Linked DNA regions of Homo sapiens: region 2 is linked to region 1. Evidence: fine-mapped QTL for protein levels in blood plasma. Region 1 holds a variant in brackets. A gene starts in the other region. All regions are shown on their forward strands.

Region 1 (5,375 bases):
AGTAGCCAGAACTACAGGCACAAGCCTCCACACCTGGCTAATTTGTGTATTTTTTTGTAGAGACCGGGTTTCACCATGTTGCCCAGGTTGCTCTTGAATTCCTGAGGTCAAGCGATCCACCTGCCTCGGCCTCCCAAAGTGCTGGGATTACAGGCGTGAGCCACTGTGCCTGGCTACATGTTGACTCTTGTCCTTTGAAAGGAATATCCTATTTTAAATTTAAATGATTTTTCCTAATTGGGAAATAGTCTACAGTATTGTGAGATGCATCAAGTATGTGTGTGTGTACATACAGATGTATAATATTAATGTATATCATTTGTTGAAAATAAAAGTGGTTATGTGTTTCCTTTCAGAATCAAGCTTCCATATGTTTCCCTATCAGTCTCAGATAGCAGTTTTCAAAGAGTTTCTACTAAGAGCGACAAAGTATAACAAGTTACAAATGCTTGGAGATGATCTGAGAACTGATAAGAAGATAATTCTGGTTGAAGTAAGGACAACTTTTAAAATCTTTTTTTTTTTTTTTTTGAAATGGAGTCTTGCTGTGTCACTGTCACCCAGGCTGGAGTGCAGTGGCGCGATCTCAGCTCATTGCAAGCTCTGCCTCCCAGGTTCACGCCATTCTCCTGCCTCAGCCTCCGGAGTAGCTGGGACTACAGGCGCCCGCCACCACGCCCGGCTAATTTTTTGTATTTTTTAGTAGAGACGGGGTTTCACTGTGTTAGCCAGGATGGTCTCGATCTCCTGACCTCATGATATGCCCACCGTGGCCTCCCAAAGTGCTGGGATTACAGGCGTGAGCCACCATGCCTGGCCTAAAATCTTTTTTTTTTTTTTTTTTTTGAGACAGAGTCTCTCTTTAACCCCTAGGCTGGAGTGCAGTGGTGCAGTCTTGGCTCACTGCCACCTCCGCCTCCTGGGTTGAAACAATTCTCATGCCTCAGCCTCCCCCGAGTAGTGGGGATTACAGGAACCTGCCACCATGCCGGCCTAATTTTTGTATATTTAGTAGAGATGGAGTTTTGCCACGTTGGCCAGGCTGGTCTCAAACTCCTGACCTCAAGGTAATCCTCCCGCCTTGGCCTCCCGAGTGCTGGGATTACACATGTGAGCCACCACACCCAGCCAACTTTTAAAATTTTGCTGTAGCTATTGACTAAACAATTGTGAGATATATCTTACATGATAATGTTAACTTGTCTCTATAGTAGTGATATTGGTAAAATACAACACAAAGGCTTTGTAATAGTAGAAACCTAAAGTCTCTTCTAGTAAACTTGAATGGAATAGCTGTAGGATAAGGAATGTTATAAATTTTAATGGTTTAAGTATAGAAAAACAAAAGAAAAGTTTGGAAAATTACTTCCTAGTGAAAATACTGTAACTGGAAAGCAACCCAAAGAAATTTGATCTAAAAATTGGGATCCCCATTGATGTATATTACTGTTTCGGATATCATCTATTTCATGTTTCCTGTGAAAGTTCTGTTTAAAATACATTGAATAAATATATTTTTGCCTACCTCAATAAATATAAATTTGAAAAATAAATTTGCAATGGAATAAAACTATACTATTATTTATTTTTTATTTTCAATAGGATTTACCTAACCAGTTTTATCGGGATTCTCATACTTTACATGAAGTTCTAAGGTAGGTTTCAGTGAAGTATTCTAAAACTCCAAATTAAATGAGAAGTGGCTTAAATTTCAACATTGCTGTATTTTGTTATTTTAGGAAGTATGTGAGGATTGGTCGATGTCCTCTTATATTTATAATCTCGGACAGTCTCAGTGGAGATAATAATCAAAGGTTATTGTTTCCCAAAGAAATTCAGGAAGAGTGTTCTATCTCAAATATTAGGTAAGAAAGAAATTTCTGCTTATAAAGGTCACATACATATTATATTTTTAAATTAATCATTTAACTGCTATCTTTCTTTATAAAACTTAGTTTCAACCCTGTGGCACCAACAATTATGATGAAATTTCTTAATCGAATAGTGACTATAGAAGCTAACAAGGTAAGTCTCTGATTAATTAAACCTTACTCGATAACTATAGAAAGCCTAGCTTAAATAGTATTATGTAAACTGAAGGAGTGTTATTTTAATTTTTTAGAATTAAAACATTTTATTATACTCATAAGGCATGTCATTTTAGCAAATGTAGGAAATACTGATTTTAAAAATCTTTAACATTTTTCTACTATTAAACTTTCACTTTCACATTGAGGTAAATTTTTCCTTTGCTTGGTTTACTGTTCT[A/C]AATTGTGTCTGTCATCAAGAAAATGTTTTCTGGCATGTAGGTATGGTAGTTATCAACAATTCAACTCTTCCTATTGTCCTGTTGTCACTTTTTTATTTTCACATTTTTTTTAATTATGGTGAAAAACATGTATCATAAAATTTATCATCTTAACCATTTTCAAAGATACACTTCAGTATTGTAAAGTCTATTTACATTCATATACAGCTGTTGTCACTTTTTTTTTTTTTTTGGAGACAGGGTCTCACTCTGTTGCTCAGGCTGGACTGCAGTGGCATAATCATGGCTCACTGCAGCCTCGACCTCTTGGGCTCAAGTGTTCCTCCCACCTCAGCCTCCCAAGCAGCTGGGACTACAGGCTGGTACCACCACGCCTGGCTAATTTTTTAATTTTTTTTAGAGACAGGGTCTCTCTGTGTTGCCCAGGCTGGTCTCGAATTCCTGGCTCAAGTGATCCTCCCTCCTCGGCCTCTGAAAGTGCTGAGATTTCAGGCATGAGCCTCTGTGCCCGGCTTCTTTTCACTTTTAGTACGTCATTTTTTCTGTATTTCAAATCAAGATGATGTTAAAAAAAAATTGATGGACCTTCTGCTCCCAGCGTCATGGTTTTAGGGAATCCTATTGGTATAAATCAACCAAATCTTGCATGAAACATAATTTTTGTTGCACTGCTAGGACCACAGGAACTGAGGGAAATATCCAAGGGAGAGGTTGTTTTGAGGATTAAATACGTTAGTGTAGAGCACCTAACTGAATAAATAACAGATATTAATAGTGAAAAATGAGAAACAAACTGAGTCCAATAATACAGGAAGCAATTACTGTGATGAATTATTATGCTATTAGTGTTTTGAAAATATTTAATGGGTCAGGTGCGGTGGCTCACGCCTGTAATCTTAACACTTTGGGAGGCCGAGGTGGGTGTATCACCTGAGGTCAGGAGTTCATGACCAGCCTGGCCAACAGGTGAAACCCCATCTCTAATAAAAATACAAAAATTAGCCGGATGTGGTGGCGGGTACCTATAATCCCAGCTACTCAGGAAGCTGAGGCAGGAGAATAGCTTGAACCCAGGGGGTGGAGGTTGCAGTGAGCCGAGATTGCGCTACTTCACTCCAGCCTGGGCAGCAAGAGCAAAACTCTGTATCCCAAAAAAAAGAAAAAAAATTACCTGGGCATGGTGGTGTGCTCCTGTATTCCCAGCTACTCAGAAGCCTGAGACAGGATGATCGCTGGAGCCTAGGAGTTTGAGGCTGCAGTGATCTAGATGAAATGACTGTAGTCTGTCATGGACAGAGCTAAACCCTGTCTCTAAAAAAACATCTACATTCTCTACTATAAGCATGAGAACTGCAAATTGAGCCATGGTGCATGCCTGTAGTCCCAGCTACAAAGGCTGACAGTGGTGGGAGGATTTGTTGAGCCTGGGAGCTCAAGACCAGCCCAGGTGTGATATAGTAAGACCTTGTGTCAAAACAAAAATTTTTTTTTTAGTGAATTGATTAGTTCAAGTGGCTCTGGTTTAAAAAAGAAGAAGAAGAAATAATTGGTGTAATTATGGCTTTTTCATCCTCACCAGACTGTATAATGTATAACCCCAGTAAAGGAATTTTCATGTAAATTTCATAAATTAGTTAGATTATTTTGTGTATATTTAATTTTATCACAGTCTGTTGCATTTTGAGGGTTTTTTTGTGTGTACACATATATGTTGTTATATATCTGTGTGTATGTAGTGAGAAAGAGTAAAAACTTCAAAATACAACCTGGTCAAAGTGAAAAAGTAAAATAATACAGTATTTAATATTTCCTGAAAGTATACCTTAAACTGTAATAAGTCATTGAAGCTTGTATCATTCATAGACCAGTGTTTAGCATGAAGGCTTTTTAGTTTTTTATTACTATTTTAAGATAATTTTTTTTTTCTGGCTCTATTGCCCAGGCTGGAGTGCAGTGGCAAGATCATAGCTCACTGCAGCCTTCATCTCCAGGTCTCAAGTGATCCTCCCATTTCAGCCTCCCAAGTAGCAGGGACTACAGGCGCATGCCACCATGCCCAGCTAATTGTTTTGATTTTTTGTAGAGATAAGGTCTTACTACCTTGCCTAGGCTGGTCTCAGACTCCTGAGCTCAAGTGATCCTCCTGCCTCAGTCTCCCAAATTGCTGAGATTATAGGAATGTGCCACCGTGCCCAGCCCTTTTTAGTATTTAAGTTTAAAAGAATCTAATTTACGTTAATTAAGTTTAGAAAATAGGTTGGGGTTTTTTGTTGTTGTTATTTTTAAGAAAATACTTTTTTTTAAATTTAATTTTCTTATTTTAGAATGGAGGAAAAATTACTGTCCCTGACAAAACTTCTCTAGAGTTGCTCTGTCAGGGATGTTCTGGTGATATCAGAAGTGCAATAAACAGCCTCCAGTTTTCTTCTTCAAAAGGTAACTATGGAAGATACAGTCATGTGGCATTATATAGGTGACTGACTTTCTCTTAATTCATTCAATGAAATCAAACATTTTAACTTACATTTGGTCTATACCTATTTATCCTTCTTTATTACTGAGACAGTGGCTTAAAATTAAATATATACACATGCATACATACCCTTCTATGAATATGTCGTAGTATATATCCTTGTTTCTGTTTGAGATAGTTTACCTTTCAAAGTTAACTTAGAACCAGATTTCCTGGATAAAAATTCTGCCTCTGCCACTTACCAGTTATATAGGCCTATGCAGGTGACTCTTATCTTTCTGTGCCTCTGTTTTCTCACCTTTTATGTGAGCACTTACCTCTTAGGGTTCTATGAAGAATATGTGAGGTGACACTATTATAGAGTGCTTCTTACAGTACTTGATTCATATTAAGTGTTCATAAATGGCCAGCCATTAATCAGTTTAATAATACTGTGCCGAGGTAGGTTTACTTTTGGAATTATTATTATTTATTTTGAGACGGAGTCTCGCTCTGCCGCCCGGGCTGGAGTGCAGTGGCATGATCTTGGCTCACTGCAAGCTCCGCCTCCCAGGTTCACAGCATTCTCCTGCCTCAGCCTTCTGAGTAGCTGGGACTACAGGCAGCTGCCACCACGCCCAGCTAATTGTATTT
Region 2 (5,375 bases), not on the chromosome of region 1:
AATAAAGGCTGGTTAGAATGACAGTTTGGAATTGTGGCTTGGTTCCAGCCCATTCTATCAGCCCAGCAATATTACAGCCTAACAATATTATTATTTTTTCCCAGAAAGAGACCTTGAAGCATCTATTCATTCAGGCATGCATTCAGTATTAACTGTGACCTACCAGGCACTATTCCAGGAACTGGGAATTTACAAAGCAAAGTAGTAGGCAAGGTCTCCACCTTTGTGCTTTACATGCCACTGTTGGGGCTCAGAAAGTGATACCAGGACAACTGGTGCTTTGACATGATGAGAGGCCTTAGGAGCTGCCTCAGAGTCAAGGTCCCTGTAAGCTTGTCTTGTTCCCCCGACAAGCACAGGGAGAGACGCTCTCTGGAATTTCCTTATCTGACCAAGAACACTTCTTTACAAAAGAAATGCAATTGTGTTAAGTCTTTTTTTCCTTTGAGACAGAGTCTCGCTCTTGTCACCCAGGCTGGAGTGCAGTGGCACTATCTTGGCTCACTGCAACCTCCTCCTCCTCCCGGGTTCAAGCGATTCTCCTGCCTCAGCCTCCCAAAGTGCTGGGATTACAGGTGTGAGCCACCGCGCCCGGCCAGTGTTAAGCCCTTTTTCTAGTAATCTCATCAAATATCCAGGAAAGATCAACCACTGGAGAGAGAAAGAGACTGGGAGTCATCACCAGACCCAGACAGATTTACCTGTTCTTCTGAGGACAGTGCCAAGAGATTACCTGGGGGACTTTATCTGCCTAGGACAACCTTTGTCCCTGTGCGGCTCCACCTCCACCTTCCCTTAAAGTCGGCCTTTCACCTCCAGGGCCATTCCTTCTTGCTAATGATTTACTGTCTTTCAAAAGAATTGTCTGCATTCCCTATCTCCCTTCTCCCCTATAAAAAAGGCTGGGTAGCCTCTGTACTCCACTGGGTTACAGGGTCACCATTCTTCCGTGATTACCCCATTACAATACATTTTTGTATGTCTTTTCTCCTCTTAACCTGACTTTTGTCGGTTGGTTTTCGGGGAACCTTCAGAGGAAGAAGGGGAATTTTTTTCAAGGCCCCTTAGCTCACCCTTGGGAGGATGATCCTTTCCAATACAATCTCAGAAGTGCCTCTGGGCTGTAGTGGCCCTAGGCTGAATTCCAGGAAGTTTTTTTTTTTTTTTTTTGTTTTTTTTTTTTTTTGAGGGACAGCGTCTTGTTCTGTTGCCCAGGTTAGAATACAGTAGCGTGGTCACAGCTCACTCCAGCCTCTACATCCCAGGCTCAAGTGAACCTCCAGCCTCAGCCTCCCAAGTAGCTGGGACCACAGGCATGTGCCACCATGCCCAGCTAATTTATTTTATATTTTGTAGAGACAGGGTCTCCCTATGTTGCCCAGGCCAGTCTCGAACTCAAAGCAATCTTCCCACCTCGACTGGGCTCAAAGCGCTCTTCCCACCTCAACCTCCCAAAGTACTGGGACTACAGGTGTGAGCTACCATGCCAGGCCTGAAAGCCATCTTAAAAAAAAAATCTTAGAATGAGAATCACAGTATTGGGAAAGGACTGTATGAATCATCTGGTCCATTCGTTTTGTCCTCTGGGTTCACCCAGTGACCCTATTTCCCCCGAGTTCTAAGGAGTCCACCTCATGCAGAATTGATTCAATAGGCGATCAGCAAGGGCCAGCTCTGCTCTGGGCCCTGAGCAGGCACTGAGTATAAGTCAGACCTGAATGTGCCTGGAAGAGTGTCCCACGCATTCCAGCAGGGAAGCAGTTTGTATGACAGGTGTCCCAGTCCAGGCGGATACCAGGTGCTGCCAGAGTGTGGAGGAGGCAGGCGGGGACTTAGTCTCCTCCCTGGGTTTGGACACTGGCATCCTGCTTTATGTGTGACACCACTGCACCCCTCTGAGCCTCGGTTTCCCCATCTGTAAAATAGAAGCGATCTACCCTCACAGGTCAGTTGTAGGGATGAACCATGAAAATACTAGAGTCTCTGTTTTTTGACAGGAACTCAAAAAACAGATCCTAAATGTACATTTAAAGAGGGTGTGAGGAGGCAAGCAGTCAGCAGAGGATTCCAGCAGGTGACATTTTAGGGAGCTGGAGACAGCAGAGCCTGGGGTTGCTAAGTTCCTGATGTTGCCCACCAGGCTATTGCTCTGAGCAGCGCTGCCTCCCAGCTTTCTGGAACCTTCTGGGACGCCTGGGGTGCATCAAGTCCCAAGGGGACAGGGAGCAGAAGGGGGGGCTCTGGAAGGAGCAAAATCACACCCAGAGCCTGCAGCTTCTCAGATTTCCTTAAAGGTTTTGTGTGTGTGTGTGTGTGTGTGTGTGTGTGTATGTGTGTGTGTGTGTGTGTGTGTGTGTGTTTTCTCTAAAAGTCCTATGGCCAGACTTTGTTTCCCAAGGGTCATATGACTGCTCCTCTCCACCCCACACTGGCCCGGGGCGGGCTGGGCGCGGGCCCCTGCGGGTGTTGCAACGCCCGGCCAGAAAGTGGGCATCAGCTGTTCCGCCTGGCCCACGTGACCCGCCGAGCATAAATGTGACCGGCCGCGGCTCCGGCAGTCAACGCCTGCCTCCTCTCGAGCGTCCTCAGCGCAGCCGCCGCCCGCGGAGCCAGCACGAACGAGCCCAGCACCGGCCGGATGGAGCGTCCGCAACCCGACAGGCAAGCGCGGGGCGCGGGACGCGGGACGGGCGCCTTTCTCTCCCAACCCTGCTTGCGTCCTAGCCCCACCCCGGGACACTGCCACACAGCGACAGAGCCCAGGAGCCAGAAACTTGGGCTCTGGAGTCAGGAGGTGCGGGGTTCTGATCCTGCCTGTGCCCGTAGGGTAGTTGGAGGGAGGAACGGTAATTTACATGCCTGGCACCCTGGTATGCGGTTGGTGACCAAGATGGGAGTGTCCCTAGAGTATCCAGTCTTTGAGGTAGCCAATTTTTTTTTTAATCCTACTTTCGAGGTGTGTTTGGAGTTGCTCTCTGCTGAATCTAGATCTCTGGGGCTCTGCCAGCCTGGGGGAGCATGCTTGGTTCTCTTGGTGGCATCTGTCCCTCACTAGCTACGGAGGACCTGAGCCAGACATCACCCTGGCTGCGGTGTTCCATGTCTCACAGATAGCCCAGTTCAGGGAGGCGACATGCCCAAGAGTGCTCAGTTAGCTGGTGTCAGAACTGGGCCTTGAACCTTGGTCTGCCCACCTCCAGGTCTCACTCATTCCCTTCTTTCAATAATTTGTTAGTATTTTTTTTTTTAACTCCTGGGCTTAAGCATCCTCCCACCTCAGCCTCCAGAGTAGCTGGGACTTACAGACATGTGCCATTTCTCCTGAGACTTTGACCAGCTGTGTTGTAGAACAGGGAAGCAGGGCAGGAGAAAAGGGAAAAATGACAATTCTGTGGGGAGGCAGGGATACGGACCCATGACAGAAATACTCCCAGAAAGACTTTTTCTTTGACTAAAGCAGACTTTCTCAGGCTTTTTAACCCTGACGCCTTCATGATGAGCATAACATGATAGGGGGTCATGAGATTTGCATCTGGAACTTTAACAAAATAACTGAATTAAATATTGGGTCTAAAAGCCAATCAAAGCAATTACAAACTTGGAGATGCCGGTTCATGGGGCTGCTGCTTCTTCCTGGGTTATGCTGTACCTCCTCCTCCTCTCCACTGCGAACTACCTGTACCAGGATTTCCCCCTTGGTTTGGGGGACTGTATTATTTAGTGTTTTAATGACTGAAGAGTGTTTACAAAGCTGCGAGAGCCACCATGCCCAGCCTGAATTTGTTTTTTGTTTTTTGTTTTTTTGTTTTTTTGCTTTTTTGCTTTTCTTTTTTTGAGATGGAGTGTTGCTCTGTTGCCCAGGCTGGAGTGCAGTGGCGCGATCTCGGCTCACTGCAACCTCTGCCTCCTGGGTTCAAGCGATTCTCCTGCCTCAGCCTCCCAAGTAGTTGGGATTACAGGCGCCCACTACCATGCCCGGCTATTTTTTTTTTTTTTTTTGTATTTTTAGTAGAGATAGGGTTTCACCATGTTGGCCAGGCTGGGCTCAAACTCCTGGCCTCAGGTGATCTGCCCGCCTCAGCCTCCCAAAGTGCTAGGATTACAGGCGTGAGCCACCATGCCTGGCCCTTTTTTTCTTTTTTTTTCTTTTTTTGAGATGGAGTCTCTCTGTCACCAAGTCTGGAGTGCAGTGGTGTGATCTCAGCTCACTGCAACCTCTGCCTCCGGGATTCAAGCAATTACAGGCATAATTGCTGGGATTACAGGCACCTGCCACCATGCCCGGCTAATTTTTGTATTTTTAGTAGAGACGGGGTTTCACCATGTTTGCCAGGCTGGTCTCGAACTCCTGACCTCAGGTGATCCACCTGCCTTGGCCTCCCAAAGCGCTGGGATTACAGGCGTGAGCCACCGTGCCCAGCCACAAGGCTGCATCTTAAAGCGATTGAGAACGTGGCCTGAATGAGGATGGGAGTCTCTTGAAGGCCTGCCCACAGGTGGGAGGCTCAGCAGTTGGGAAGGACCCCACCCCCAGCCAGCTTTGTGTTCACCTTTCCCATTTCCTCCTCAGCATGCCCCAGGATTTGTCAGAGGCCCTGAAGGAGGCCACCAAGGAGGTGCACACCCAGGCAGAGAATGCTGAGTTCATGAGGAACTTTCAGAAGGGCCAGGTGACCCGAGACGGCTTCAAGGTATGTGGCTTGGTGGGACTAGCCCTGGTGGAGGGTGTGGCAGGTGTGGGTGGACCCAAGGCTCAGACCAGTGGTTTAAGTGGGGATGCTGAGGGACCAGATGGGCATGTCCAATAGAATCATCTTAAAAATGATGACACTGAGGCTCAGAGAGGGAAGGTGAGTTACCCAAGGTCACACAGCAAGTTCAGCCTGCTCTGTAATGTTGTGGAGGGGCTGGGGCAGCAGTGCCGTTGACTGAGCACCGGTTCCATGTTGGGCATTTTGTACACGTGGTTTCTAATCTGTGCTTCAACCCTGACGAGAAAGATGAGGACTGGAAGGCTCAGAGAGGTTCAGTGACTAACAGAAGGTCACACAGCCAGTAAGTGGAAAAGGCTGAAATCAACCAAGACCGATTTCAGCCTTGTACTCCTTGTATTTCAGAGCTTGTACTCCTGATCTAACTCGAATTTGCCTCTGAAGATAAGGAATAATATAGGTTGGAGTCTTAACAGAACCCTTTTCTAACAGTGAGACTGAGGGTGCCTCATCTAATCTCCCTAAGCCACGTTTTCCCCATCTGTAAAAGAGTATTTCAACAGCAGGGTTTTCTTAAGCACCCACTATATGCCAGGTACTGATTTTGCTGTTTCCCAGCACTGTTGTGAAATTCATGCAAATAGAAGGAAAGCACTTGATGAA

Which allele goes with the higher level. Positions count from the first base shown, and alleles are read on the strand shown. Strength reflects both the effect of a copy and how common the allele is.
For the plasma level of the protein whose gene starts at base 2,561 in region 2, allele A in region 1 goes with a lower level than allele C (weak association).

What was found. PIP is the posterior inclusion probability: the model's chance that the variant is causal. The UK Biobank Pharma Proteomics Project read protein levels with antibody pairs (Olink). The fine-mapping took linkage between variants from a reference panel, not from the people measured, so its PIPs are less certain.
Region 2: HMOX1 starts here. The variant in region 1 is fine-mapped to the plasma level of the HMOX1 protein (UK Biobank, PIP above 0.99).

What each region holds. Positions count from the first base shown.
Region 1 is chr5:69,384,441-69,389,815 of GRCh38, forward strand. RAD17 (RAD17 checkpoint clamp loader component) reads left to right here. Exons shown (of 19, transcript NM_133338.3): 8 at 357-493; 9 at 1,603-1,655; 10 at 1,740-1,865; 11 at 1,956-2,025; 12 at 4,594-4,705. Among named protein-coding and RNA genes, the nearest start is that of RAD17, 17 kb to the left of the region's middle. The variant A/C (reference allele first, on the strand shown) is at 2,269.
Region 2 is chr22:35,378,536-35,383,910 of GRCh38, forward strand. HMOX1 (heme oxygenase 1) reads left to right here and starts at 2,561. Exons shown (of 5, transcript NM_002133.3): 1 at 2,561-2,661; 2 at 4,571-4,691. The coding sequence starts at 2,639. RefSeq lists silencers at 2,282-2,361, 2,662-2,831.